7 linked regions of the Homo sapiens genome follow. The protein of the gene in region 7 purifies or fractionates together with the protein of the main gene of each other region. This does not show direct contact. Each region holds a gene or a part of one and is shown on either strand. Other genes may lie near its edges.

Region 1 (3,500 bases), on a different chromosome or scaffold from region 7:
TGTTGGTCAGGCTGGTCTCAAACTCCTGGCCTCAGGTGATCTGCCCGCTCCTGCCTCCGTAAGTGCTGTGCTGGGATTATAGGCGTGAGCCACTGTGCCCGGCCTGTTCTTATTTTTATTTTTTGCTTCCCTATACTGTATTCTTGGTTTTATTCTGTTGTTTCTTTCCCCTGTCTTCCTGAGTTGGATGCTTAACTCATTAATTTTCAGCTTTGTCTTGTCTGATAATAGCATCTTTCCCTTCAGTGTGTCTGCATGGTCACCTGTCACCAGTGTCTTGTCCGAATACAAAAGGCACCCCATGCAGAGCCTGAGCCTGCCCGTTCTTCCTCTCTCTCAGGCACTGTCACTGCTGTGGGAAGCTTTCCCACATGGTGATGTGCTTATCCAAGGTGATGGCTTGCCCTGTGACCCCATCTGTGGAATACGCATGCTCCTTTTTTGGTTATACTTGCATGTCTTTATTTGACTGAGCTTCCTTATTGAAGTAGAACATGCACCCCGAGCACCAGTCGCAGGTGTACAGCCATGAACCTGCTGCTAGTGGACCTGCTTCCTGGAGGCCCCCCGTATGTCCCCCCCAAGGAATTATCCCAAAGGTAACCACTATCCTGATTTCTCTCCCTGTCAGTTTGTCTTGCCTGGTTTTGAGCTTGTTTGTAATTGGAATGATACGTCGACATGCCTTTCACTTCTGCCTGAGTGTGGGCTACTGTGGACCAGGCCCTTGTCTTGGGCAAACTATATCCCCAGAGGAGCCTCGCTCTGGGCTTGGGGTCCTGGGCCCACTCAGCGAGTGTTCAGTGAACATCCAGTTGTAGCGTCTGCACTTGCCTATCACATGCCCTGTCCCCTGAGCTGGGCAGAGTCCAGACCCTCCATTTCTCTTCCCTTCACTCTTCTTTCACGTCTTCCCCAGGGGACCGGGCCGAGTACTGCAAGGCAGCCAATAAGAGGGTCATGGATGTGATCAACTCAGCCAGGACCCGCCAGCAGATGCTGCATGCCCAGACCTTCCACAGCAACTCTCTTTTGACCCAGGAAGATGCAGCAGCTGCTGGGGATCGCAGACCAGCCCCTGACACCTGGATTTATCCGCTGATTCAGATGAAGCCCTTCGAGATTCAAATCGATGAGATTGTCACTGAGACCCTGTTGACTGAGGCGGAGCGCGGGGCAAAGGTCTACCTCACCACTGGCTATTTCAACCTGACCCAGGCCTACATGGACCTGGTCTTGGGCACTCGGGCTGAGTACCAGATCCTGCTGGCCTCACCAGAGGTGAATGGCTTCTTTGGGGCCAAGGGGGTGGCCGGCGCCATCCCAGCGGCCTATGTGCACATCGAGCGACAGTTCTTCAGTGAGGTGTGCAGCCTGGGACAGCAGGAGCGGGTCCAGCTTCAGGAGTACTGGCGGAGGGGCTGGACGTTCCACGCCAAAGGTGCGCAGCGGCTGGCTGGAGGACGTTCCAGTGTGGGACAGCCACAAACATGGGCAGGGGGTGGGGAGCCCTGGCGCCTACCTGTTAGAGTGCTGTACTTCTCCCTTCCTACCTTCCCAGCAGCCCTTGCAGGCACATCATAGCTGTCCCATGACTTGGGGAGAGGCGAGCATTCATCTCCTCAAGGGAATTTTTTTTTTTTTTTTTTTTTTGTGACAGTCTTGCTCTGTTTCCCAGGCTGGACTGCAGTAGCATGATCTCAGTTCACCGCAACCTCCACTTCCCGGTTCAAGCAGTCCTCCCACCGTAGCCTCCTGAGTAGCTGGGACTACAGGCGCGTGCCACCATGTCTGGCTAATTTTTGTATTTTTGTAGAGATGGGATTTTACCATGTTGCCCAGGCTGGTTTTGAACTCCGGAGCTCAAGTGGTCTGCCTGCCTTGCCTCCCAAGAAGTGAATTTCAGTTGTGTAAAATCCGTCTCTTTTATGCATCAAAGACTGTATATGGTCACATTATTTGGTGGCTGTGGTAAAGATGTGGTGACATAACCTCTCCTAAGAGATGGAGAGGAACATGCCTTAGCTGTGAGATGGAATGTCACTCTTGTCGCTCAGGCTGGAGTGCAATGGTGCGATCTTGGCTCACCGCAACCTCCTCCTCCTGGGTTCAAGCGATTCTCCTGCCTCAGCCTTCCGAGTAGATGGGATTACAGGCCTGTACCACCACGCCTGACTAATTTTTTATTTTTAGTAGAGATTGGGTTTCTCCATGTTGGTCAGGCTGGCCTTGAACTCCTGACTTGAGGTGATCCACCTGCCTTGGCCTCCCAAAGTGCTGGGATTACAGGTGTGAGCCACCACGCCCGGCCCTTAGCCTTGTGTTGATTGTCAGAGTTCCTGCTTGTTGGCAACTTTTTTTTTTTTTGAGACAGAGTCTTGCTCTGTTGCCCAGGCTGGAGTGCAGTGGCACGATCTCAGCTCACTGCTACCTCTGCCTCCCGGGTTCAAATGATTCTTGTGCCTCAGCCTCCCTAGTAGCTGAGATTACAGGCATGCACCATTACGCCTGGCTAATTTTTGTATTTTTAGTAGAGATGGGGTTCCACCATGTTGGCCAGGCTGGTCTCGAATGCCTGACCTTGTGAGCCACTTGTCTCAGCCTTCCACAGTGCTGGGATTACAGGCGTGAGCCACTGCGCCCGGCTGGCAATGCCTTTCTCAGGGAGAAAGAAGATTCATTAGGGATCATTTGTTTTGGCATCAGCAGCCCAGTTTTCTTGTCTTTTCCTCACTATTGCTATTGTTTTTTTCCCTATATGCCAATGTCTGCCTTTTTTCCCCATAGCTGAGGAAATGGAGGCTCTGTGCACAGTCTTGCTGGTGGGGGTGGTAGGAAGAGGGTCACACTCTGCAATGCATGTTTATCCCTCTCAGGCATCTGGCGGAGCAGCCGAAATGGGGCAGAATCCCAGGGGCAGCTCTCTAAGACATGGGTATAACATGCTGGAAACCCTGTGCTTAGCAGTGGGCTTACTGCATGGCCTCTTAATGCTGGGAGGGTGCCCGCCTCTAGCAGCGGGACCATGACTCCTTTCTGACGCTGGGGACCCCCAATCCTGGAGCTAGTCTGTCTAGAGAAGGGGAAATGGTGCCTGGAGGCCCCTGTGCCATGAGTACATCCCACGGCTTTTCTGGCTTCTCCCTGGGCAGTCCAGAGGCCTGTTTTGCTCCTTCTCTTGTCCTGGTTCTAGTGGCTTTCGGAAGAGCTGAGTGAGTGGGGGGCCTCCATGGATGGGGAATCTAGGCTGTGGACTGCAGTAGGCACACAGCTGTGTTGTTGAGACTCGAGGCATCTTCCGGTGCTCAGGTGGTTTGTTTTTGTTTTTGTTTTCTTTAAACCAATGTTTTTCAATTGGGGGATGCGTTGTAAGAAATACTGAAGCCGGCCAGGCGCGGTGGCTCACGCCTGTAATCCCAGCACTTTAGGAGGCTGAGGCAGGCAGATCATGAGGTCAGGAGATCCAGACCATTCTGGCTAACACGGTGAAACCCTGTTTC
Region 2 (3,500 bases), on a different chromosome or scaffold from region 7:
TTATCCCAGCATTTTGGGAGGCTGAGGTGGGTGGATCACCTGAGGTCAGGAGTTCGAGACCAGCCTGGCCAACGGGGTGAAACCCTGTCTCTACTGAAAATACAAAATTAGGCGGGCGTGGTGGCATGCGCCTGTAATCCCAGCTACTCGGGAGATTGAGGCAGGGGAATCGCTTGAACCCTGGAGGCAGAAGTTGTAGTGAGCCGAGATCGTGCCACTGCACTCTAGTCAGCGACAGGGTGAGACTCTGTCTCAAAAAAAAAAAAGAAGTATCTTTCAGTATGACTTCAAATTCAGCCCAACAAATACGGAGTACCTCTTAAAAGAAAGAAATGATGCTAGATGTGGGGGATACAAAGAGGAATAAGATATGGTTCTTGATATTTACAGGATGCTAAGATAAATAAAAAATGATTATTAGTACAAGGATATGATTTATCATAAGAAAAATAAAAACGGTATGCAGTTTGAAGGAAGATGAATCTGCTTCTAGTTTGGGATAAGAAACTCTAGTGCAAGATTTATTCATTCATTAGGTAGATCGATATTTATTGATACTTATTGATTAATCTACTATTCTGTGTTCTATTGCTGGGGAATGAGCAAGGAACAAAACAGTCTGTTTTCTTGGAGTTAACATTCTAGTTAGGTAATGCAAATAAGAAACAAACATATAGTATGCCAAGCAATAATAAGTACCTTGGGAAAAAATAAAGCAGATTAAAGGTATTAGAGAGGGGTGGGCAGCAGAGAAGGGGTACTAGTCTATGTTCGGTTGTCAAGGAAGGCCTCACTAATCAGAATCCGGAAGGAAGCACGGGAGCAAGTCCTTTAGCTGTGTGGAGGGAGAGAGAGCCTTTTAGGCTGAGGAAGCAGCTGATGCAGAGAACCTAAAGTCAGCGTATGTTTGATGTGTTCAAGGAATAGCAAGGAAGACATTGGGGCTGAATGGAGTAAGGGAAGGGAAGAACAGTTCAAGATGAGGTGAAAGGGGACCAGACCACGCAGGATCTTCTAAGCCATTGTAAGGACTTGACTTTCACTTCAAGTGATAGGAGAAGCTAGTTGAGGATATTGAGCAGAGGAGTGACTTGATTTGACTCATGTTTTATTGTGATCACTGGCATTATTGTGTGGAGTAGACTAGTGGGGCAACGGTGGAGTCAGGGAGACTTTTTAGGAGACTCTCATAATCCTGGTAGGAGATGATGGTGGCTTGGACCAAGATATCTGGTAGCAGAAAATGGGGAAAGAATCAGTCAGATTCTGGATATATTTTGAAAGGAGTGATGACAGGATTTGTTGGTAATTTAGGCATACTTCGTGCCTTTTGTGAGCATTGAGGACAGCCAAGCATGGCTTCTTAACACCTATTTTAGTTTGTTCAGGTTGCAATAATAAAAATACCATAGACTGGGTGGCTTATAAACAACAGAAACTTACTTCTCACAGTTTGGAAGGCTGTGAAATCTTAGATCCAATTTCCAACAGATTTGGTGTCTGGTGAGGGCCCACTTCCCAGCTCATAAACAGCCATCTTCTCCTTGTAACCTCACATGGTAGAAGGGGCAAGGGAGCTCTCAAAAGCCTCTTTTATAAAAGGGTGCTAACCCATTCATGAGGGCTCCACCCTTATGACAATCGCCTCCCAAAGGCGCTTACCTCCTGATACCATCACATTGGGAGTTGGAATTTCAACATATAAATTTTGACAGGACACAGACATTCACTCTATATCAGCAGCTATCTTAACTAGATTTCATTTGTATTCTTAATTTGAAAAAAAAATTTGAGAAAGAAATAGCAGTGAAATTTACCTGATATAATATGTAGTAATTATTCCTCTTAAAAGGGTAGTATAGGCATGGGACATTATGTATTTCTTCAGTAACTGACTTGTACTGAGGATCACTGACTATAAGAGGGTCCTTTGTGCTATCCAAGGCCCCTGGGACTTTATCGCACCCTGGGAGGCCTGGGCCTGTCTCTAAAGCAATGATAACAATATGATTTTCTCTTGAATTTTTTTTCTTTTTATTTTCGCTCAATGAAATTCTAAAAATATGTGGTTTGTTTAATTGGATAATAAATTCTGTTAGCCAACTTTTCATGTGAAGACTCCTAAATTCTGAGTTGTCATTTCATCATCAAATTACTGAGCATCTTCGGAGAGGTAAAAACTGTGCTTTAGAGATGTCTTTAAAATAATAATGAATTGATTAGTGAGTAGGAAGAAAAATGGCTAGAGAAACAAATTTTATTTGGGAGCAAATGATGAAGACAAAGACGTGAGACATTTTTCTTCTAAAAATAAACTATCCTAGTTCAGAAACTTAATTTGAAAACCTCATATAATTTCTTATATTCCCCACCCCAAGTGATTAAATTCAATTTGAAAGTAATAAAACTCTATTGCAATATTGGGAATAACTCAGTGGTTGAAGTGAAACTGATAGTACAAGGGTATATTGTTAATTAGAATATACAGTCATAACTCAAAGATTGGAATTCCCTATTATTGTAGTCTAATTTCTGACATATAATGAAAGAAGGCAGTTTCTCAGGCAGTATATAGAATTATGTGAGTCTGTATACTACTACTACATTTTGAAATTATATTTTATGTAGCATGCTCTAGTGAGTATGTTATGTTCTACCTAAGGTTCCTGTCCTTTGACATCTCTAGCAGTATGGTGAAGTTATGTTCCCCTCAAAGGCAGTTGAGAATACAGCACTAGAGAGCACAGACAAATCCAGGCCAGAGATGAAGATTTCAGAGTTTCAGAGTCATCTAAAAAGAAGTGATAGTTGAAGCAATGAGAATGGATGAGTTCACGTAGGAAGTGATTAGAGAAAAAGATCAAAGTAACAGTATTGCATATTTTCCACATTTAATGGGTGGGAGGAAGACAGAGCCTGTGTTGGATCAGATTCATAGGAAATCAAGAAAGCAAATAGGAAACCAAGAAAGCAGGATTCTGTGGGTCTGTGATTAGAACACAAATTTTGATCATTTTGATTTTTAAACTTTAGCTTATTGAAGATTGTATATTTTTATTTCTTATTGGATCCCTTGCATATCATCACAAAAATGTATTGTTTCTTACTGTAGCTTATCAACTTTTAAAATGTTTTAAATTTACACTTTATGCATTCAACAAGTATTTATCAGTCATCTGTTATATGCCAGGTTGTAGGTGATGTGAAATAAATAGACAAAAATCCCTGTCCTCATGAAGCTTATTCTGCAGTAAAGGGAGACAGATAATAAATTTGGTGCTGGGGGCGGGAGTGGGGGGCAGTGAGGAGGGAGAGGCAGCTCTCTTATGTCTCTTTTTATAAAGCTACTAATCCTATTCGATCAGGGCCCCACCCTTCAGACCTCATTAAACCTTAGTTACCTCCTTTTAGGCCTTATTTCCAAATACAGTTACACTGGAGGTTGGGACTTCAAAATATGAATTTTAGAGGAACACATGAGTCCTTAGCACACAGTTATG
Region 3 (3,500 bases), on a different chromosome or scaffold from region 7:
GGAAGGAGCTGCAGCCTCCTAAGTGGCACCGCACAAGGAGGCCCCCTTGAGCACAACGGACTTCACTGGGGCTCCTCATGCCTGGAAGATGTGGGGTGGTTCTTTTTCTGCTTTAAAACTCACACCCCTCATAAAGAGGTCTCCCTTAGACCCAGGATCTGCTCTGCCCCAGGCCAGGTATGGACTCCCCAGCCCCTGTTCCGCAAGTGACCTGCCCACCTTCTCCAGGGTGATGGTGTTCTTCCTGGCCTGGGTCACCAGCATGGCCATCTCGGTTTTGAACCCCTCCACGTCCCTGCACTCGCTGGCCCGGGCATGATGCAGGATCAGCTCAGCCACTCTCTGGCCCTGGAAAATGCAACGGAAAAGGGACTTGGAGTGGAGCTAGCATAAACCTGGATGCGGTGCCCAAGCGTCTTTCTCATCTCAGCAGCTCCACCCTGACTTTTCTGGCATCTTGCTTTTGGCTCTTCCTCCTCGGGCTGTGACCTTTTCCCTTTGCCCATACCTATAGGGAGGAATGCCCCCACCCCCGCTGCACTGCGCCTCAGTGCTTAACCTTGGCCCAGGGGACACTTTCAAACCAGCTGCAGGCCCCAGCTTTGGGTTTGCCCTCTCAGAGGCAGGGACTGCCCTGCATTTTGCTGTTTAAAAAAAAAAAATTTTTTTTTAAAAAGAGCCAGATGCAGTGGCTCACACATGTAATCCCAGCATTTTAGGAGGCCGAGGCAGGTGGATCACCTGAGATCAGGAGTTCAAGACCAGCCTGACCAACATGATGAAACCCCATCTCTACTAAAAATACAAAAATTAGCCGGGCATGGTGGTGGGTACCTGTAATCCCAGCTACCTGGGAGGCTGAGGCAGGAGAATCACTTGAACCCGGGAGGTAGAGGTTGCAGTGAGCTGAGATCGTACCACTGCACTCCAGCCCAGGGAACAGAGTGAGATTCCATCTCAAAAAAAAAAAATTAATTAATTAATTTTTAAAAAAAACAGTTCTCTTTTTCCCAGTGTTTTTCTTGCTGGAGAATTCTTTGCCAGCCGGCCAGAGGGCCTCCTCAGAGTCACCCACGACGTAGTGCTTTCAATTGACTCTGCAGAGGCCTTGCCGAATGCCTTTTCTCTAAATAATCATTCTCAACCACTGCAGACCCTCAGAATCACAGGGGAGGCTGCAAAAACTACTCATGTCCCCACATCGGACGTGCCAGCATGCTGTGCCCCACTTAGAGGCTGTGTTCTCTATGCTGTCGCATCTCACCAGCCTGCCACCTTGCAGCAGGTAGCACACACCAGGGGCAGCCATTATCTGGTCAAGAAGCCAGCATTCCTGCTGACCAGCTGGATGTTTGCTGGAGAAGGACCAGAAACTACTAACACGAAACAGCACTTGTTTCTTCCCACAGTCCCAAACCATCTGCCACTCAGAACTGGCCTGATTTGCACCCAGCACCTGCTAACAGAAAGCCCCTTAAGGGCAGCCTCGCCTCCTGTCCTCCTGCCTCCCTCCACTCGTTTCTGGCACACTGGCAAGTGTGAGCATTGACAAGAATGACCGGGCTAAGGAGACCTGTCCTGTTTCAAGACAGAGACATTCTGGCTGGGTGCAGTGGCTCACACCTGTAATCCCAGCACCTTGGGAGGCTGAGGCAGGTGGATCACCTGAGGTCAGAAGTTCAAGATCAGCCTGGCCAACATGGTGAAACCCCATCTCTACTAAAAATACAAAAAGTGGCCGGGCATGGTGGCATGTGCCTGTAATCCCTGCTACTCAGGAGGCGTGGCAGGAGAATTGCTTGAATCCAGGAGGTGAATGTTGCAGTGAGCTGAGATCACGCCAAGGCACTCCAGCCTGGGTGACAGAGCGAGACTCTGTCTCAAAAAAAAAAAAAAGACAGAGACAGAGGCATTCCCCAGAGTATAAAAGATTCACCCCCTGCCCAGCCTGTAGTCCTAGCTACTCAGGAGGCTGAGATGGGAGGATGGCTTGAGGCCAAGGCAGCCTGCGCAATATAGCAAAACCCATCTCCATTAATTTTTTGAAACTTTAAAAAAAAAAAAAAAAAACTAAGATCTCACTCTGTCACCCAGGCTGCAGTAGAGCAGTGCAATCCTAGCTCACCACAGCCCCAAACTCCTGAGCTCAAGTGATTCTCCCACCTCAGCCTCCCAAGTAGCTGGGACCACAGGCGCACACCACCAAGCCTGGCTTTTTCTTTTTTTTTTTTGAAATGGAGTCTCACTCTTTCACCCAGGCTGGAGTGAAGTGGCACAATCTCAGCTCACTGCGACCTATGCCCCCCAGGTTCAATGAATTCTCCTGCCTCAGCCTCCCAAGTAACTGGGATTACAGGTACACACCACCATGCCTGGCTAATTTTATATTTTTAGTAGAGACAGGATTTCACCGTGTTGGCCAGGCTGGTCTCGAACCCCTGACCTCAGGTGATCCACCCGCCTTGGCCTCCCAAAGTGCTGAGATTACAGGCGTGAACCACTGTGCCTGGCCTATTTTCTTATTTTTTATAGAGACAGGGTCTCACTATGTTGCTCAGGCTGGCCTTGAACTCCTGGGCTCAAGCAATCCTCCCCGCTCAGGCTTCCAAAGTGCTGGGATTACAGGTCTGAGCCACCATGCTTCACCAGCTCTTTTAATTAAAAAAAATTCACCCCAACTTCTGTGGTCCCAGTGCGTCTCACCTGCCCCATCACCACAGCCATGAAAACTGCCCGGAAATTCCTCAGGTCAGGGGCCTGCAGCTCCGCCACAATGCCAGCATCCAGCAGCACCAGTCGCAGCGGGCAGAGGGAAGATGGCACGGCCACCACCAGAGTGTCACAGATGTCCGCCTGCTGCAGCTGCGCCTCCTGACTCGAGGACAGGCCGTTGGCACCCTGAACCAGGATGTTTCCAGGGTGAAGGTCTGCATGGACAAAGTTATCCACAAATATCTGGAAGGAGATCACAATGCTCATGAGTGAGTCGCCCCTAGAGCACCACCAACCTACAGAGAAAGAAAGTTGCCAGGTGACAATAAGCTCCCAGCACTCTATCACAGCCGCAAAGAGGTGCATGTCCTATAGACCCTTCTTGTTTAGATGTCAACTCAGAATTTGTACAAGGATGAGCTAAGTTAAAGTTTTCAAGAGAAAAATTATTTTCAAAGTAAAAAGCATTTTTAAAAGATTATAAAGGGGCCGGTCTCAGTGGCTTTACACCTATAATCCCAGCACTTTGGGAGGCCAACGAAGGAGGGTCACTTGAGCCCAGGAGTTCAAGGTTACACAGAGCTATGATCATGCCACTGCCCTCCAGCCTGGGTGACACAGCAGGACCCTGTCTTGTAAAAATAAATAAATAAGGCCGGGTGTGGTGGCTCACGCCTATAATCCAACACTTTGGGAGGCTGAGGTGGGCGGATCACTTGAGGTCAGGAGTTAAAGACCAGCCTGGCCAACAAGGTGAAACCTCGTCTCTACCAAAAATACAAAAATTA
Region 4 (3,500 bases), on a different chromosome or scaffold from region 7:
GAGCCTTCTCTGTCACCCAGGCTGGAGTGCAGTGGCGCGATCTCTGCTCACTGCAAGCTCTGCCTCCCGGGTTCACGCCATTCTCCTGCCTCAGCCTCCCGAGTAGCTGGGACTGCAGGCGCCCGCCACCACACCCAGCTAATTTTTTTTTTTTTTTTGTATTTTTAGTAGAGACAGGGTTTCACCGTGTTAGCCAGGATGGTCTGGATCTCCTGACCTCGTGATCCGCCTGCCTCGGCCTCCCAAAGTGCTGGGATTACAGGTGTGAGCCACCTCGCCCAGCCTATGTTAACTTATTAATTTCTTTCATATATTTGATCTTTTTGAAAAAGTTTTGGGGAGAAAAAGATTTTAAAAATGACCACATATGAAAGACACCAGAATATACAAAACAAAAGCACACACATTGAGCCTGGGCAATTTCTTGAGTCCCTGTCTCTAGAAAAAAAAAAAAAGATTAGCTGGGCCTGATGGTATACCCCTGTGATCTCAGCTACTCAGGAGGCTGAGGTGGGAGGATTGTTTGAGCCCAAGAGGTCGAAGCTGCAGTGAGCCACGATTGTGTCACTGCACTCCAGCCTGGGTAACAGAGCGAGACTGTCTCAAAAAACAAAACAAAACTGACCCCTGCCCCCCCATCCAAAAAAAAGCACACACAGTATTCATAATAACTGTAAAAGATAATATGACAGAATTGAGAACAAATAATATTAGTTTTTATCAATACCTATATATATGGATTTAACTCTCCAATTGTAGATTTCAGTGTTTATAAATTACCATCTTAAAGTGAAGATAAAAGTATTATCTTAACTTTTCACATTGTCTTGGCTTTTTCTTTTTGCAAAGATCCTTTTAGTACAGTTGATATAGAAGATCATGAGTGTGCTGTGTGGCTGCTCCTACGGAAGAGCAAGTCAGATGACAAAACCACGCGACTCGAGGCTGTGCGGGAAATGTCGGAGACCCATCACTGGCATGGTAATGAGACTACCTGAACAGGTGGCATGCCTTCAGCTGGCTCTTGATTGCTGACATAAAAGACAAGGGAGTGGCCAGGTGCGGTGGCTCACGCCTGTAATCCCAGCACTTTGGGAGGCCACGCTGGTTGGATCACAAGGTCAGGAGTTCAAGACCCACCCTGGCTAACATGGTGAAACCCCGTCTCTACTAAAAATACAAAAAAATTAGCCAGGCATGGTGGCGGGCGTCTGTAGTCCCAGCTACTCGAGAGGCTGAAGCAGGAGAATGGCGTGAACCCAGGAGGCAGAGCTTGCAGTGAGCCGAGATTGCGCCACTGCACTCCAGCCTGGGCAACAGAGCGAGACTCCATCTCAAAAAAAAAAAAAAAAAAAAAAAAAAAAGACAAGGGAGTGGGAGTGAGATTCAGGAAGGAAAATAATTCAGGCAGTGTTAGTATATATAGAAAGTATTTGAAAAATTTTAAGAAGCTTCAGTGATACGGAAAGTAGAAAGCCTGCTGAACTGGTAGTCAAATGTGTTTGGTAAGAATAAGCTCAAAAATGAGGTATATATATTTGTGTAACTTTCTACCAGAACAAAGTTTTATTTGGTTACATACTTCTTTGAGAGCAACTCTTGATTCTGATAGTTACCTAATGTACTTGAGTTTTCTTTTGGTTTCTATTTAATGAAGTACATTTAATTGCTTGCTACACCATACAATTATGTTTGCTTTTACTTTTACAATCTACTTGGCTCTAATACTAATAGTCGAATGTACCCAATTTGTATTTGTGTATATCATTTTTAATGGACTATTTGAAATATGTAATTGTGTTTAAAAATCACAAATTTTACAATAAAAATATTTTTAAAAGAACTCATATCTTCTCTGGTTATAGTACATGGATAAAACTATAATTTGTTAGTAGAGCTGTCTTGTAAAAATGGGAAAAGTAGAAAAAAATAATTTTCTCAGCCAGGCATGGTGGCTCACACCTGTAATCCCAGCACTTTGGGAGGCTGAGGAAGGCGGGTCACTTGAGGCCAGGAGTTCAAGACCAGCCTGGCTAACATGGCAAAACCCTGTCTCTACTAAAAAAATAGAAAAAATTTAGCTGGGCATGGTGACGTGTGCTTGTAATCTCAGCTACTTGGGAGGCTGAGGCACAAGAATTGCGAACCCACGAGGTGGAGTTGTTAGTGAGCCAAGATTGTACCACTCCACTCCAGCCTGGACAACAGAGCAAAACTGTCTCAAAAAAAAAAAAAAAAAAGAAAAATTCTCAAAGAAAAGTTAAGCTCAGAATGAGATCTCTGCAAATTAATTTGTTAATTGGTTGGTGGCTATAATTATAATTTATAATGTAAGTATAAGCTTACTTAATGTTGGTGGAGATTTAGAATAGAAATATTTTTCAAAATTTGCCTTCCAGGGCTCCATTCCAGACTTATTGTATCAGAGAAATCAGAGGAAGTGCCCTGGCCCACAGATTTTGGAAAAGTTCCCCACTTGATCCAGAAGTACTCACCCAGGTTATTATTATTATTGTTTTTTGAGACAGTCTTGTTCTGTCACCCAGGCTGAAGTATAGTGGTGTGACCTTGGCTCACTACAACCTCCGTCTCCTGGGTTCAAGCTATTTTCCTGCCTCAGCCTCCCGAATAGCTGGGGTTACAGGTGCCTGCCACCACGCCTGGCTAATTTTTGTATTTTTAGTAGAGACAGGGTTTCACCATGTTGGCCAGGCTGGTCTTGAACTCCTGACCTCAAATGATCCGCCCGCCTCGGCTTCCCAAAGTGCTGGTATTACAGGCCTGAACCATGGCGACTGGCCAACCCCAGGTTATAAACTGCCATTATTGAAAATAATGTTTGCTTTCATGGTTGGAATTTTGTTTTTGATATATAAAGAATGGCATGTTTAATTCAAAGTACTGCTATCTGGAACTGCAGACTAAATATTCATGGACACTATGAATACCAAAGCACCATATCATCACCACGGAGCAGTAGGCTTAAATGCCACCTCATGTGTTTTGAGTAGTGGTCAGAACATCTTTTGAATGCTGGAATTGTTTTAAAAAGAAGTTAAATTGGTTCTGACTTACCAGTTTCCACCTTTGAGCTTCCTTTTTTCCAAAAAGTTAGGCTGTGACCCGGTCTCCATATATATGTTGAGGAGAATTGTGAGATCAGTCCTGGAAACGTATCTAGCTTATAGGTGTTGTAAATGTAGTTGCACTTGGGAAATTTTGGATTACAAATTTGCAGAGCAGTTTAAAAATTAGAGTGCTTTCAAGTTGTTTGTTCAGTTAATCTTTATGACATCTGTCAGCTAGTTTTGGTATTAACAAAAGAAAATGCTTTTTCAATAGATTACCAGTATAGGATAATTGCTCAAGCCTGTGATCCGAAAACTCTTATTGGTTTGGCACGAAGCGAAGAGAGTGATCTTCGCTTTTTTCTCCTACCACCTCCTTTGCCATCTTTAAAAGAAGTAAGTAAAACAATAATAATAGTAATTTAGAGAGTG
Region 5 (3,500 bases), on a different chromosome or scaffold from region 7:
TGGAGAGGTGACTCGGGGGTCTTTCTCTTAGTCTGCAGTGAGGGTCTGTGACTGTTAGAGAGAGGTGGACTCGGGTCTTTGGGAGCTTTGATGTCCCACTGCCTGGCATAATAGACCATAAGTCCTCTTTGTCTGAGGCTCTGAGTTTTACAAATGTTTTTCTTTTCTTTTGTAATGTGTGTGTGTGTTTTAAGTTTTAATTTCTTTTTATCATTATGAGAATACACTTCTGTAGGTTCGTGCTAACCATGTGGTACATTCTTACCTTTTACTTGACGTCATTTAGCTCGGGTGAAGAGAACCGATCTGGACAAAGCGAGGACTTTTGTTGGCACCTGCCTGGATATGTGTCCTGAGAAGGAGAGGTACATGCGGGAGACCCGTAGCCAGCTGAGCGTGTTCGAAGTGGTCCCAGGGACTGACCAGGTAGAGCCCTGCATCTCCCCGTGGAGTGTGGGCAGGGGACGGGGCTGCTTTTGTCATTTCTGTACATACTTGATTTGGGTGTTTGTTTTAGACAGTGTTGGGTATTTGTGCTATTAACAATCATATTAAGCTGTTTTGCATTGTGAGATGTTCACTCTGTAATTGGTACCTATACATGATAAGGTATAGATGCAAGTTATTTTAAATAAAGTTGTTTTTCAAATTCTTTTTTTTTTTTTTTTTTTTTGAGACAGGGTCTCACTCTGTCACCTAGGCTGAAGTGCAGTGGTCCAATCATGGCTCACTACAGCCTCAACTTCCCAGGCTCAGGTGATCCTCTCCTCTCACTCAGCTTACAGAGTAGCTGGGATTACAGGCATGCTCCACCACGCCTAGTTACTGTTTTATTTTTTGCAGCGATGGGGTCTTGCCGTGTTGCCCAGGCTGGTCCCGAACTCCTAAGCTCAAGTCATCTGCCCACCTCCGCCTCCCAAAGTGCTGGGATTACAGGCGTGAGCCACCACATCCAGCTAACTTTTTTCTTTTTACGATCTTATTCCTGTCTGTTTCTATGCTTATGTTTTACACATTCGAGATTATGCTCTAGATACAATTTTATGTGTATCTTTTCCACTTAAAATTATGTCATGAACATTTTCCTTTGTTAGGGTAAACTATGAGCATTTAAAAATGACAGCATATTATTTTATTAGTAGCTCTGTCAAAACTCTGCATTTTTACCATTAGTAGATAGGCTGCTTCTAAATTTTTAGTTCTATTAGTAATATTGTTTGGCATCTTGTATGTAATGCTTCTCTGGTATTTAGATTATTTTCTTCAGATCCTAAGAATTAAATTACTGCATCAGAGGGTATGACCTTTCCTGAACATTATCCATGTATCTTCCCAAATTGTTGCCCCAGAAAGCTGCACCAATATAGATCCTTTTGGACTTTGTGAATTTTGCTTATGGGCTTCTCCTCTTCCTGGCTGGTGGCTTTATACACCCTTCGCCTGGTGCGGGGTCCCCAGCCCAGCAACTCGTGTCACTGTAGGGCCCCTGCCCCAGGAGAGGCACATGCCCAGGGCCTTGTCCTGTGTACATCTCTGCCTCTTCCCTTGGCCACGTCTTCAGCCTCCTTTTGAGGTGGGAGATGCAATTCCAGGCCCCAGGTGGGCAGCCAGCCCCTGATGCTGTGTCCTCAGCAGTCCTCACCGCCTGTCTCTGTTTCACTTCTGCTCTGTGTAGACTTAATCTGGTGTGTGAGCGGGCCTGAGACCTTTTAAGTGCTTGAGGCCCTTCCCTGTCCCGTCTCTCTGCTTTGGAGGCTAGCAGATGTGCCTTCACTTAACATTCCTCCTGTTTGTCATGACGCACTCATATCTTAACTCCTTGTCATATTTGCCAAAATCAAATTTCTCTATTTGTCTTTGAATTTTGATTGTCACCTTTTAACAGAAATTTTATGTTGAAAAAATATATTCTCAAATACTGATCTTGTGTGGGTGTGTATGTGATTTTCCCCCTCATTTTCAGGCATAACTATGCCTGGCCCAAGGTATGCCACATGGGCATCCTGTCTCGGCTTCATGTCTCTAGGTGGACCACGCAGCAGCTGTGAAAGAGTACAGTCGGTCCTCGGCGGATCAGGAGGAGCCCCTGCCCCACGAGCTGCGGCCCTTGCCAGTGCTCAGCAGGACCATGGACTACCTGGTGACCCAGATCATGGACCAGAAGGAGGGCAGCCTGCGGGATTGGTATGACTTCGTGTGGAACCGCACGCGTGGCATACGGAAGGTATTGGCTGCCTCCAACCTGGATGCTAAAAAATCCACGCAAATTCCAAAGTCAAACTGATATTTTTATTACTCTGTTATATATTTTATCTGTAACAAAAATGTACTTTTGTGGGCCAGGTGCAGTGGCTCAGGCCTGTAATCCCAGCACTCTGGGAGGCCGAGGTGGGTGGATCACCTGAGGTCAGGAGTTTGAGACCAGCCTGGCCAACATGGTTAAACCCCATCTCTACTGAAAATACAAAAATTAGCTTGGCGTGGTGGCACACGCCTGTAGTCCCAGCTACTCGAGCGGCTGAAGCAGAATTGCTTGAACCTGGGAGGCGGAGGTTGTGGTGAGCCAAGATGACACCACTGCACTCCAGCCTGGCTTCTGTCTCAAAAAAAAAAACAAACCCCAGGACTTTTATTTAAGTCACTACAAAGTCCTATTAAAATGTGCATCATGGGCTTTGTTTCAAATTGAAAAGTGAGAAATTGAGGTCGTAGCATGATCCTTCTCACGGTTGCCTCTTTGCATGGGAATGTGTGTGTGATCCTCCCCCTCGCCTGTGGCCAGGATATCACGCAGCAGCACCTCTGTGACCCCCTGACGGTGTCCCTGATTGAGAAGTGCACCCGGTTTCACATCCACTGTGCCCACTTCATGTGTGAGGAGCCCATGTCCTCCTTTGATGCCAAGATCAATAATGAGAACATGACCAAGTGCCTGCAGAGCCTGAAGGAGATGTACCAGGACCTGAGAAACAAGGGTGTCTTCTGTGCCAGCGAAGCGGAGTTCCAGGGCTACAATGTTCTGCTCAGTCTCAACAAGGGAGACATCCTAAGGTGAATTTTCACATCCAAAAGTTGTCCTAAGGTGGCTGAAAAGGCAGGCTTTAAACAGGAGAAGAGCTTTCAGGAGTGGCAGTAGCCAATAGTGCAGCATTCTGTCTGGTAGCAGATGTTGGGATGATAGTAGAGGACCTTGGTCTGGCTTTGCAGTCGGCTGAGCTGAGCTGGGGGAAGAGCGATGGGGGTGTGCCCTGGGACCAGCACATCTGACGTAGGCCCCACATGTTCATTTCTGAAAATAGTTTCTCCTCACCAGTGAGAAAATGAGGAAGGAATCCTCCTCATGAGACAGGTGAGTGAACCAGGAGAGGGAGTTCCAGGTGCCCTGCAAGGTTGTTAGCAGTTCCCTGTTCCCAGATAGTTTTGTCAAAGATCTCAGAATAAGAGAGGAAAAAATTATGTAAAACAAAAATGCGAAGAATGGGGTAGTGAGAATGAATGAA
Region 6 (2,312 bases), on a different chromosome or scaffold from region 7:
CGGCTAATTTTGTATTTTTAGTAGAGACAAGGTTTCTCCATGTTGGTCAAGCTGGTCTCGGACTCCCGACCTCAGGTGATCTGCCTGCCTTGGCCTCCCAAAGTGCTGGGATTACAGGCGTGATGAGCCACCACTCCCGGCCCTTTACCAGTTACTTTTAATAATACTACTGACATATACGTGTATCAGTTTCAGAATGCTTTACACACAGCCATCCAACTGCATATTGTTTTGTTACAGTACTTCTATATTTGGTTTTCCAAGTATATCATCACATCATCTACAAATACTTGTTTTCATCTTCAAAATAGGAAATAATAGGACTAATTGTCGGGACCTTTTTCATGTCTGACTTTAAAATAGATGTCTCCAATGAATTCTCAGTTAGTATTGTACCAGAAGTAGAATCTACATTTTAACAAGAGCCCTGGGTGATTCACATTTATTCTACTGGATAATTTTTATTTCTATTAGACGAGTTTTTGGTTTGTGGTTAGGTTCGTTTGTACTTGTGTCCCTCTAAAGGAAAGAAAATATGTTCTTTTTTCCCAGATTTGGAGTCAGCATATGAAAATAAGAGTTTACCTACAGAAAAAAACATTCATGAAATAAGGGCTTCCAAAAGGAATTCAGATAGAAGAAGTAAATCCCTTGGCCGTAACTGGATATGTGAAGGTACGCTTGAAAGACCACAGCGCTCCAGAGGGAGGTATGTCAATCAGATGATCATCAATTATGTCAAAAGACCTGCTACTAGAGAAGGCACCCCTCCTAGAACACATCAGAGACATCATAAGGAGAATTCCTTTGAATGTAAGGACTGTGGGAAGGCCTTTAGTCGTGGCTATCAACTTAGTCAACATCAGAAAATCCATACTGGTGAGAAACCTTATGAATGTAAAGAATGTAAGAAGGCCTTCCGTTGGGGCAATCAGCTTACTCAACATCAAAAAATTCATACTGGGGAGAAGCCCTACGAATGTAAAGACTGTGGGAAGGCTTTTCGATGGGGCTCAAGCCTCGTTATTCATAAGAGGATTCATACTGGTGAAAAACCCTATGAATGTAAAGACTGTGGAAAGGCCTTTCGGCGTGGTGATGAGCTCACTCAGCACCAGAGATTCCACACTGGGGAGAAAGACTACGAATGCAAAGACTGTGGGAAGACCTTTAGCCGTGTGTATAAACTTATTCAGCACAAGAGAATTCATAGTGGGGAGAAGCCTTACGAGTGTAAAGACTGTGGGAAGGCTTTTATTTGTGGTTCAAGCCTCATTCAGCATAAAAGAATTCACACAGGTGAGAAACCCTATGAATGTCAAGAATGTGGGAAGGCCTTTACTCGAGTCAATTACCTTACTCAGCATCAGAAGATCCACACCGGTGAGAAGCCTCACGAATGTAAGGAGTGTGGGAAGGCCTTTCGCTGGGGTTCGAGCCTCGTTAAGCACGAGAGGATACATACGGGCGAGAAGCCGTACAAGTGCACAGAATGTGGGAAGGCCTTCAATTGTGGCTATCACCTCACTCAGCACGAGAGAATCCACACAGGCGAAACCCCGTATAAATGTAAGGAGTGTGGGAAGGCTTTCATTTATGGATCGAGCCTCGTGAAACATGAGAGAATTCATACCGGGGTGAAACCCTATGGGTGTACAGAATGTGGGAAGAGCTTTAGTCACGGCCATCAGCTTACACAACATCAGAAAACGCACAGTGGGGCGAAATCCTACGAATGTAAGGAGTGCGGGAAGGCATGTAACCACCTAAACCATCTCCGAGAACATCAGAGGATCCACAACAGTTGAAGAGCCTTTTGAACGCAGTAGCCCGCTCGTATCTATGGTTTCGCTTTCCACAGTTTGTTACCTGCAGTCAACTGCAGTTCAAAAATATTAAATGGAAAATTCCAGAAATAAAGAATTTTAAGTCTCAAATGGTGTGCCCTTCTGAGTAGCGTGATGAAATCTCTCGCTGTCCGGCTCCAGCCGGCCGGGGATGTGAGTCATCCCTTGGTCCAGCACATCCACGCTGTATACGCCACCCACCCTGCTAGTGACTTAGTAGCCGTCTTGGTGATCAGATCAACTATCCCAGCATCACAGTGCCTGTGCCCAAGCAGTCCTCACTTTGCTTAACAGTGGCCCCAGAGAGCAGGAGTAGTGATGCTGGTGATTCGGATATGCCAAAGAGAAGCCACAAAGTGCTTCCTTTTAAATGAAAAGGTGAAAGTTCTCAACTTAAAAAAGAAAAGAAAAAAATCATATACTGAGGTTGCTAAGATCTACATGACAATAAGATATTTTGGGAGA
Region 7 (3,500 bases):
CATGCTCCCTGCTCCCTGCTCCTCATGGGCCACTTCAAATACCCCTTCCCATGATGCTGTCTGTTCTCCCAAAGCTGGTATGAGCCTTCCCCCCGGTGGGAGGGGGCTGGGGCAGAAGCTACTCTACAGAGAACACCTAGGCAGAGCTGTGAGGTGTCCCCACGGTCACACATTTGCTGCCCTCTCGCCCCCGTCCACTGTGGTTTCATGTTCAGAAATGTGAGTCTGTGCTGGTCTCTGCCCCGAGCCCTTCATGCTTGGCGTGTCCCTCTCTGAGTCCTGGTGTGCAGTCCTGTCCCTCTGGACCATCCGCTCCAGGAGGGGAGGCCAGAGGCGCTCCTCATCTGCCTCTCGCAGTGCCAGGCCAGGGCTTGTTAGGTGAGATTAAATGGACAGCTCCAGGGGTGGGAGTAGCTGGCCCAGAGCTCTGGCCTTTAGCCCTGGGATCAGAGCAGAGGTGGCTCTGATCAGCCCGGATGTCACCCGGAGAAAGGTTACGCAGGCAGCGAGCCCTCGTGTTTGCTGAGGCGTTGCATAATGTTCTGCCAGCGTGATCTGGTTACACGTGAGATCTCAGACGGCTCTCACCCCGGCCTGATCCCTTCAGCGCAGCCAGCCTGGCAATCTCACACAGGCCTGTGAGCTGTTCTTGCAGTAGCTCCCTGGCAGCATTGGAAAGGGCCGGTGAATGGTTTTCTAACCGGCACCTCCCGGCTGTGTTCAGCTGAGGTTCTATACCTGTGCCTCTCCAGGACCCCAGCAGGGGTGAGAGCTCTGCTACCTTCAGAGTGAAGGGAAAGACCCCAGCCCGCTTCCCACCCAGAGTCCTTGGCCTTCTCCCTGTCCTGTGGTCCCTGGCCTGGAGCCGTGCTAGAGGGTAGACGGCGACAGGTGCCAGCAGCCTTGCCCCAAGGGTCCTGAGTCAGGCTTGTGCCATCTTTCCTCACAGATCTTTGATGTGGGTGAGAATCTAACGGTCCCGGATGAGTTCACAGTGGAGGAGAGGCAGACGGGGATGTGGTGGAGACACCTGGTGGCAGGAGGTGGGGCAGGGGCCGTATCCAGAACCTGCACGGCCCCCCTGGACAGGCTCAAGGTGCTCATGCAGGTATGTAGGGAAAAGGCCCCAGACCCCTGGGGGGCCAGTTTCCACCTGGGGGATGCTGCTTGGCTAGTTTTCCCTTTCTCTGGCTGGTGCCTGCTTTGGGCCCAAACTTTTCTAACCCAATAAATTAGACTAGAATTATTGCTCAGACAGGGGGTACCAAAATGTCACTGTAGGTGACATTTTGTGCAGAGCGGATCTAATTTTATCTGAGGCATCACATTACAGGGGCATAATGTGGACAGGTGAAGCTAGCGAGACTGGGGTGAGGCAGGAACCAATTTCTGTAAGTACGTTTTGTGTACGTTACCCCACACTGGGGCCAGCAGAGCCTCACCTGACCCAGATGCCAATGGGAAGCCACGCCATTACCTTGGCCAGGTACGCAAATCCATGTCCACACAGCAGAGATAAGCTGGGCTGATGTCAAGGCAGAATTGTGAAACTGACCCACACAACGACACTGGTGGACTTTGATGTCTGAATGGTGACTGGCCACCACTTGTCCCCTTGCCCGTACCTAGTACTTCTTGTGCCAGGAGCCCGGCTTGGAAGAGCTGCCTCCTTTCTCTCCCCAGTCTGCCTTGCTGGGCCTCCCTGTGTTGCACAGAGACAAAGGAAGCAGGTGGTTCAGGGCAGAATGCCTCGGGCTTGGACTCTGCCCAGGGCACCACCACAGCTGCCTCCCTCCCTCTTGTGGCCTTGAGCAAACCCCTTTCCCTCCCAGGACTTCCCCTCCTCTGTGAAAATAGGGGCTTGAACAACTGCCTCATCCTTTTGTTTTTTTAGCAGAATTATCAGGAATGTTGTAGAGATTGAAAGCAGGCCTTGGGTGAAATCAAATGCCTGGCGTGTGCCTTTAAACCAGCATGGGTGGGGCAGCAGGAGAGAGAGGTTGGCTGTGGTTTGATCATTGTCTAAGCTGAGTGGGCATTCATTCTATTTTTTAATATGTCTTAAGTTTTTTTAATAATGAAAAACTTTGATTTTTAAAAATTATTATTATTATTATTATTATTATTATTATTATTATATTTTTTGAGACAGTCTCGCTCTGTCACCCAGGCTAGAGTACAGTGGTATGATCTCAGCTCACTGCAACCTCCCTCACTGGGTTCAAGCAATTCTACAGCCTCAGCCTCCCTAGTAGCTGGGATTATTACAGGCATGCGCTATCACCCCAGGCTAATTTTTGTATTTTTAGTAGAGACGAGGTTTCATCATGTTGGCCAGGCTGGTCTCACACTCCTCACCTCATGTGATCTGCCCACCTCGGCCTCCCAAAGTGCTGGGATTACAGATGTGAGCCAACACTCCCGGCCTTTTTTTTTTTTTTTTTTTTTTTTTTTTCTAAAATAGAGTCTCGCTCTGTCGCCCAGGCTGGAGTACAGGGGCGCGATCTTGGCTCACTGCAACCTCCACCTCCCGGATTCAAGCGATTCTCCTGCCTTAGCCTCCCAAGTAGCTGGGATTACTGGTGCCTGCCACCACGCCCGGCTAACTTTTGTATTTTTAGTAGAGACGGGGTTTCACCATGTTGGCTGGGCTGGTCTCGAACTCCTGAACTCAAGTGATCCACCTGCCTCAGCCTCCCAAAGTGCTGGGATTACAGGCATGAGCCACCGCGCCCAGCCTTGATTTTTTTTTTAAGTCATCTTTATGGAGATGTTCAGGACAAGGCTGGCAACCAGCAGATACCCAGTACGATGGAGCTGAGCCTCACTTAGCCGTGTTGGGTTACTTTGGGCTCATGATTCCAAGCTTGTCTTCAAAATGCACGGAAGAAAGGGCCTTCCCTTTGGCCGCAGCCGGTTGGCCAGCAGAGGCTCTTGGCCGGGTGAGGCAGCCTGTGGCCCCCCGGGTCCGTCTGACTGTTCGGTCCTCCCTCCCAGGTCCATGCCTCCCGCAGCAACAACATGGGCATCGTTGGTGGCTTCACTCAGATGATTCGAGAAGGAGGGGCCAGGTCACTCTGGCGGGGCAATGGCATCAACGTCCTCAAAATTGCCCCCGAATCAGCCATCAAATTCATGGCCTATGAGCAGGTGAGGACCCAGCTCCTCAGGAGGGTCACCGGCCAGTGGCTACTCACTGCCTGGACTTGCTGGCTTTCCCTGGGCTGAGCTCCCTGACACTTGGAGCCAGCCGTGGTACCCCAGGGACAGCAGGGCGAGGCAGGAGGCCCAGGCTCACCACGAGTTCCTTACATTTCTGGGTAGCATAAAATGTGCCGGGGACTCCTGGAAGGGAGGGGCAGCAGCAGGTGCCCCAACCTCTGGGTATATCAGGTGGTTTGTTTGTTCCTGGTTCTAGATCAAGCGCCTTGTTGGTAGTGACCAGGAGACTCTGAGGATTCACGAGAGGCTTGTGGCAGGGTCCTTGGCAGGGGCCATCG

The links.
Region 1: the proteins of SLC25A25 (region 7) and PGS1 purify together in Homo sapiens (affinity purification with mass spectrometry; one large-scale study listed by BioGRID and IntAct). This does not show direct contact.
Region 2: the proteins of SLC25A25 (region 7) and OMA1 purify together in Homo sapiens (affinity purification with mass spectrometry; one large-scale study listed by BioGRID and IntAct). This does not show direct contact.
Region 3: the proteins of SLC25A25 (region 7) and ADCK2 purify together in Homo sapiens (affinity purification with mass spectrometry; one large-scale study listed by BioGRID and IntAct). This does not show direct contact.
Region 4: the proteins of SLC25A25 (region 7) and SERAC1 purify together in Homo sapiens (affinity purification with mass spectrometry; one large-scale study listed by BioGRID and IntAct). This does not show direct contact.
Region 5: the proteins of SLC25A25 (region 7) and MCM3AP purify together in Homo sapiens (co-immunoprecipitation; one large-scale study listed by IntAct). This does not show direct contact.
Region 6: the proteins of SLC25A25 (region 7) and ZNF331 purify together in Homo sapiens (co-immunoprecipitation; one large-scale study listed by IntAct). This does not show direct contact.

Annotation. Positions count from the first base shown.
Region 1 is NC_000017.11:78,402,649-78,406,148, forward strand, and holds part of PGS1 (CDP-diacylglycerol--glycerol-3-phosphate 3-phosphatidyltransferase, mitochondrial precursor), read left to right. Parts: intron 1-919; coding exon 920-1,441; intron 1,442-3,500. UniProt on the Homo sapiens protein: Functions in the biosynthesis of the anionic phospholipids phosphatidylglycerol and cardiolipin.
Region 2 is NC_000001.11:58,501,727-58,505,226, reverse strand, and holds part of OMA1 (metalloendopeptidase OMA1, mitochondrial precursor), read left to right. Parts: intron 1-3,500. UniProt on the Homo sapiens protein: Metalloprotease that is part of the quality control system in the inner membrane of mitochondria. Activated in response to various mitochondrial stress, leading to the proteolytic cleavage of target proteins, such as OPA1, UQCC3 and DELE1.
Region 3 is NC_000007.14:140,686,445-140,689,944, reverse strand, and holds part of ADCK2 (uncharacterized aarF domain-containing protein kinase 2), read right to left. Parts: intron 2,956-3,500; coding exon 2,704-2,955; intron 349-2,703; coding exon 220-348; intron 1-219. UniProt on the Homo sapiens protein: The function of this protein is not yet clear. It is not known if it has protein kinase activity and what type of substrate it would phosphorylate (Ser, Thr or Tyr).
Region 4 is NC_000006.12:158,144,263-158,147,762, reverse strand, and holds part of SERAC1 (protein SERAC1), read left to right. Parts: intron 1-849; coding exon 850-981; intron 982-3,342; coding exon 3,343-3,464; intron 3,465-3,500. UniProt on the Homo sapiens protein: Facilitates the transport of serine from the cytosol to the mitochondria by interacting with and stabilizing Sideroflexin-1 (SFXN1), a mitochondrial serine transporter, playing a fundamental role in the one-carbon cycle responsible for the synthesis of nucleotides needed for mitochondrial DNA replication.
Region 5 is NC_000021.9:46,272,112-46,275,611, reverse strand, and holds part of MCM3AP (germinal-center associated nuclear protein), read left to right. Parts: intron 1-286; coding exon 287-426; intron 427-2,026; coding exon 2,027-2,224; intron 2,225-2,782; coding exon 2,783-3,051; intron 3,052-3,500.
Region 6 is NC_000019.10:53,576,145-53,578,456, forward strand, and holds part of ZNF331 (zinc finger protein 331), read left to right. Parts: intron 1-552; coding exon 553-1,808; 3' UTR 1,809-2,312. UniProt on the Homo sapiens protein: May be involved in transcriptional regulation. May play a role in spermatogenesis.
Region 7 is NC_000009.12:128,102,732-128,106,231, forward strand, and holds part of SLC25A25 (mitochondrial adenyl nucleotide antiporter SLC25A25), read left to right. Parts: intron 1-949; coding exon 950-1,108; intron 1,109-2,997; coding exon 2,998-3,150; intron 3,151-3,418; coding exon 3,419-3,500. UniProt on the Homo sapiens protein: Electroneutral antiporter that most probably mediates the transport of adenyl nucleotides through the inner mitochondrial membrane.